Linked DNA regions of Homo sapiens: region 1 is linked to region 2. The links come from fine-mapping of genetic effects on gene expression. A gene starts in region 2. The other region holds a variant in brackets. All regions are shown on one strand. Distances are between the middles of the regions.

Region 1 (2,748 bases), 52 kb before region 2:
ATGAAATTATGTTACAGCCTAATTTAGTATATTTTTATATACGATATGGAAAAATGTCCACAGCATGCTTAATAAGTGGGGGGAAAAATCAACCTACAGTTCAATACGTATCATTTGATATTGTTTTATAACATTTGTAATTTCTTTAAAGTTCTGATATCTATGTGTTTATTGCACATCTATGCTTTCATCTGAAAGATACGTACTTATGCGGAGAATAAGGTGCTGAGTAAATGGAGAACTTTTACTTTTTACTTATCTTTGTTTACTTATTTTTTTTGAGACAGGCTCTCACTCTATTGCCCAGGCTGGAGTGCAGTGGCGCTACCACAGCTCACTGCAGCCTCAACCTCCTGGGCTCAAGTGATACTCCTGCCTCAGCCTCCAGAGTAGCTGGACTACAGGTGCATGCCACCATGCCTGGCTAATTTTTTGATATTTTGTAGAGATGAGGTCTCCCCATGTTGCCTAGGCTGGTCTTGAACTCCTGAGCTCAACTGATCCCCCCACCTTGGCGTCCTGAAGTGCTGGAATTACAGGTGTGAGCCGTTGCACCTGGCCCTTAGCTTTATTTGGAAAAAAAATTCTTTTACCACAAACATGTACATTTTTATAAACAGAAAAAAGAATCCTCCACATAAATATGGGGGAGAAGGGAGTAACTATAATACTGAGTTATCAGCATGAGTCCTAGAACTTGAGACCCAGGATCCTGAATGAGGGGACACTTTGTTATCCATCATTTTCAGGTATCTATCTATCTATCTATCTATCTATCTATCTATCTATCATCTATCTATCTATCTATCTCTATTTAAAAGTGATTCCCTCAAAAGAGACTTTTTTTTTGGTAAATGTCAGGCATTTAATACACTATTAAGATCTATGGTCACTCATAAAAATACTTTTTGCCATCTTTGGAGTTTCCTAAACCTTTAAAAATAAGAGGGTGAACTAATGTGGTCTCTCCATTTCCTTGCAGCTGACATTCTACGATTTTGTGTTGCTAAAATGATATGCAGAAACCTTTAAAAGAGAGTTCATAAGACATCTGATTCATTTATGAGTACACTTTTAGCCAGAAGGCAAAAAAGTTATTGATACCACTACAACATCATAGTTCTCTTTTATATCTAATTTTGGGTTTTCAGTTGCTTTTTAGGTTATTCCTCTATTCTTCATAATATAATTGATATGTGAACAAATACAAAAAATACAAAGAAAAACCTTCCATAACCTTACTGTCCAGATGAAACAATTGTTAATATTTTCTTTTTTTTTTTTTT[TG/G]AGACAGAGTTTCGCTCTTGTTGCCCAGGCTGGACTGAAATGCCAATCTCGGCTCACTGCAACCTCTGCCTCCTGGATTCAACAGATTCTCCTGCCTCAGCCTCCCAATTAGCTGGGATTAAAGATGCCTGCCACCACGCCTGGATAATTTTCTTTTCTTTTTTTTTTTTGAGACGGAGTCTCGCTCTGTCACCCAGGCTAGAGTGCAGTGATGTGATCTTGACTCACTGCAAACTCCGCCTCTCGGGTTCATGCCACTCTCCTGCCTCAGCCTCCTGAGTAGCTGGGACTACAGGTGCCCGCCACCATGCCCGGCTTATTTTTTGTATTTTTAGTGGAGACGGGGTTTCAAAACTGTGTTAGCCAGGATGGTCTCGATCTCCTGACCTCGTGATCTGCCCGCCTTGGCCTCCCAAAATGCTGGGATTACAGGCGTGAGCCATTGCACCCTGCCATCTTTAGATCATTCCTATAAAGAATTGATCTTTAATTCAAAATAGTAGCACAAAAGAAGTGACCCAAAGTATTTCTGCTCCATAAATCCATAAGAACTAACACACTGGGTACTTCTACCAATTAAGTATATTTTATTGATAAATAAGTATATATGAGCAAAATCCCTGAGAACCTTATGAACATGCATAAATCTATGTTCATTTGGAAAATGTAAGTTCAACATGACCCTAACATCCCATTCCATTTTTTATTTTCAAATTTGTACTGTAAACCTTACACTGAAGTCTTATTCACATGTGTTTGTGCAAGGGTCAACTGCCAACATGCTTCTGTTAACCACTCTACACTCATGGTCACTTTTCTGTGTATATCAGGCTTATTCATTCTTTCAATGAGCCAGGTGCTGTGGGAGATAACAGGTGAATACAAGATTCCTGCTGACAACAGCTTCAGCTCTGTGAGCTCTTTACCTTGTATATTCTTCTTGTAGCTGACCAGGATCAGGTGGAAAAAATTTTACAGCTAGGCGAAGCACCACATTCTTTGGCCCTATAACAAAAAAATTTAAACTTCACAAATAAGGCCGATCTTTGCATTTATTCTCTTTTCATATATTACTGTATAACTGAGGTCATGCTTCCAAGTGGACTGTTACAGCAAATCTTTTCAAATAATATGATATTAAGAAATTTCTGCCCAGGTGTGGTGGTGTGTGCCTGTAATCCCACCCCTTTGGGAGGCTGAGGTGAAAGGATGGCTTGAGGCCAGCAGTCTGAGGTTGCAGTGTGCTACAACTGCACCACTGCACTCCAGCCTGGGCAGCAGGGTGAGACCCTGTCTCCGAACAAAAGAAAAAACAAAGAAGCATTTCCTGTATATGAATTTATGAGTCCCAAGTACCAATCACATATATATATAGAATTTTAAAATCTTTTGCATTCAGCAGGGATTACTCAAGGAAGCCTTAAAAACAAGTAGGGCTGGGCGCGGTGGCTCACGCCTGTA
Region 2 (2,712 bases):
CCCAAAGTGCTGGGATTACAGCCACTGTGCCTGGCCAAGTAAATTTTAAACTCATTTTTTGAATAAGGAACCTGAGGCAGAGAGAAATGAATACACCTTATATCAACTTCCTCTTTGGGAAAGGAATTAGTATACAAGGAACCTGGAAATTTACTAACGACTGATAGTCCTATAGGTAAATAAGCCAGCAAACGTCTGCAGTCCAGGAAACTGCATCATCAGCATTTAGTTTGTTAACAGTGAACCACCTAATGAGAATCTGCAACAAGGATAGGGCACATGAGAAGTACAGATGGTATTTGCAAGTACCCTAGGTGTGACCCTAAACTGGTCATTCCACCTCTCTCAACCTCCCTTTCCTCTACTTTAAAACGGGGCTGTGCAACTTGGTCATGTCTCTGAAGAGTTTTGGAAAACTGAATAAATAACGAGCATGAAGTGCTTCCTAAACCTTTAAGGACCTCAAAAAACAAAACAAAACAAAACTTTCAACAAGCAGATGTAGAAAATTTAAATTATATTTGGCCTACAAGTAAAGGTTACTCCATGCTTCCCTACCTCAAATGTCCTCTCCCATCTCTCTGGTACTGAGAAAATCTGTGTCGCCTGTTATAAGGCAGTCTACACAAGACCAACACGCTAACCCACTGCCACCTCAGGGTTATCAAACATTTACACAGTGGCCCAGACAAAAATATCCCACGGAAACAAAACAAAAACAAAAACCCAGAGAGAAAAACCACCCTTTAAAGATTTGGCCTTGGGTTTTAAATTTGCCCATCCCTTTTTAACACTATGTATTGACAATCTTTCCTTCAATGATGCCTTGTTCTAATTTCTGCTTTTCACATCCATTAATGGCACATGATAGGCCAGGGGTTGCTGCCATAGCGTAAACGGAAAAGGTGCCCGTAATTCGGGTGTGTAATGTACTGGGCCATATTCTGGTCCCCAGTTTTCATGGGTTTCCCAAAGGCTACCCACTGGCTTATGAGTATTTCTAGCCCTTAGTGGAGTAAAAATATTAACACCTAACACTTGATTCCCACCTTTAAGATACAATTTAAAGAAATGCTAAAAAGGCAAACGGCTCAAAATGCCTCCACCAGGCACCTCCAGGCCCATACCCTGCGGGTCCCTATGGCCCACTCTGGGGTGTCCTTCCGGGATGGGACACTCCCCGGCCCACGGCCCTGCCGGCCTCCACGGGGCACAACTCAACCCGCGAGTCCACGCGGGACACTCCCCGGTCTACAGCCCCACCGGCCTCCTCCACGCGGCACCCCTCAACCCGGGAGTCCACGCGGGCCACTCCCCGGCCCACCGCCCCGCCTGCCCCCACGCGGCAGGCTCCCTACAGACGGACGCTCCTCTAACCCGGACCCGCCTAGGAGCTCCAGCCGCCTCACGATGGCCTTCAGAGGCCGGGCGGGACCATCTCTGGTGGACCGCGGCCTCAGCGCCCCCCCCGCCTGGGCCTCTCGCCTCGGGCCTCGGGCTTCGCCGCCCACCCGGAGAGGCCCACCCCTGCCCCACGCGCCCAGGCCGCTTCACGTCCTCACCCTCGGCCTCTCGCTCGCCCGCCGCGTCCTCACCGGCCTCGCCCGGCCTCCGCAGTCGCAAGCAGCAGCCGCCAGACTCGCGTCGGCGTCGCCTGCTCCCAACTGCCCGCCGGCAGCCCCCGCGCAGCGCGCCCCGCCCTGACCCCGCCCCCGCGACGCGGACGCGCAGTCGATTGGCCTGCGGGGCGCCAGGGCGGAGCCTTCCCGTCCCGCGGCCTGAAAGCGCAAGATCGAGTTCTGATTGGTGAACGGACGGAGAAGGGGCGGGAGCAGGCAGGCAGCTGCGTAGGATATAAATCTGTGCAGCGCTCGGCTCGTTGGGCGGGGCGTCGGCTTGCTGAGCGAGGCAATGTCCTAGGCGAAGCCAAGGCTCGCTGGGCGGGGCTAGATCTTGGGCGGGGAGTCGGCTCGTTGGGTGGGGCTAGGTCCTGGGCGGGGAGTCGGCTCGCTGGGCGGGGCTAGGTCCTGGGCGGGGAGTCGGCTCGCTGGGCGGGGCTAGGTCCTGGGCGGGGAGTCGGCTCGCTGGGCGGGGCTAGGTCCTGGGCGGGGAGTCGGCTCGCTGGGCGGGGCTAGGTCCTGGGCGGGGAGTCGGCTCGCTGGGCGGGGCTAGGTCCTGGGCGGGGAGTCGGCTCGCTGGGCGGGGCTAGGTCCTGGGCGGGGAGTCGGCTCGCTGGGCGGGGCTAGGTCCTGGGCGGGGAGTCGGCTCGCTGGGCGGGGCTAGGTCCTGGGCGGGGAGTCGGCTCGCTGGGCGGGGCTAGGTCCTGGGCGGGGAGTCGGCTCGCTGGGCGGGGCTAGGTCTTGGGCGAGGTCTAGGCTCGCTGGGCGCGGATAGGTGCTGGGCGAGGCCTAGGCTTGCTGGGCGCGGATAGGTGCTGGGCGAGGCCTAGGCTTGCTGGGCGCGGATAGGTGCTGGGCGAGGCCTGGCTCGCTGGGCGGGGATAGGTCTTGGCCCGGGCCTTGCCGGCTGTCCTTGCACCCTTTGGCTCAGTCCCTGGCTGCCAGCCTCCTCCTTCCTCCAACGCATTGCATCCCTCGTGGGACTACAGGGACCGAAGGGGATCATCGAAGGATCGCGCGAGGCTGTGCTAAGGCTGAGACAGGCTGCTCCGTGGTGGCGGCCAGGACGGCCTTCCTCTGGCCTAGGGACCCC

Which allele goes with the higher level. Alleles are on the strand shown, and positions count from the first base shown. SD is a standard deviation of normalised expression in the study named.
With allele G in place of TG in region 1, the expression in non-classical monocytes of the gene that starts at base 1,666 in region 2 is higher (large effect, 0.77 SD a copy in Schmiedel 2018).

Evidence for each region. PIP is the estimated chance that this variant, and not a neighbour inherited with it, causes the effect.
Region 1: its variant is fine-mapped to the expression of FARP2 in non-classical monocytes (Schmiedel 2018, PIP 0.95).

Annotation. Positions count from the first base shown.
Region 1 is chr2:241,407,081-241,409,828 of GRCh38, reverse strand. It overlaps FARP2 (FERM, ARH/RhoGEF and pleckstrin domain protein 2), which reads right to left. Exons shown (of 27, transcript NM_014808.4): 5 at 2,214-2,292. Among named protein-coding and RNA genes, the nearest start is that of FARP2, 52 kb to the right of the region's middle. The variant TG/G (reference allele first, on the strand shown) is at 1,287.
Region 2 is chr2:241,355,239-241,357,950 of GRCh38, reverse strand. It overlaps FARP2 (FERM, ARH/RhoGEF and pleckstrin domain protein 2), which reads right to left and starts at 1,666. Exons shown (of 27, transcript NM_014808.4): 1 at 1,563-1,666. RefSeq lists a silencer at 1,329-1,878.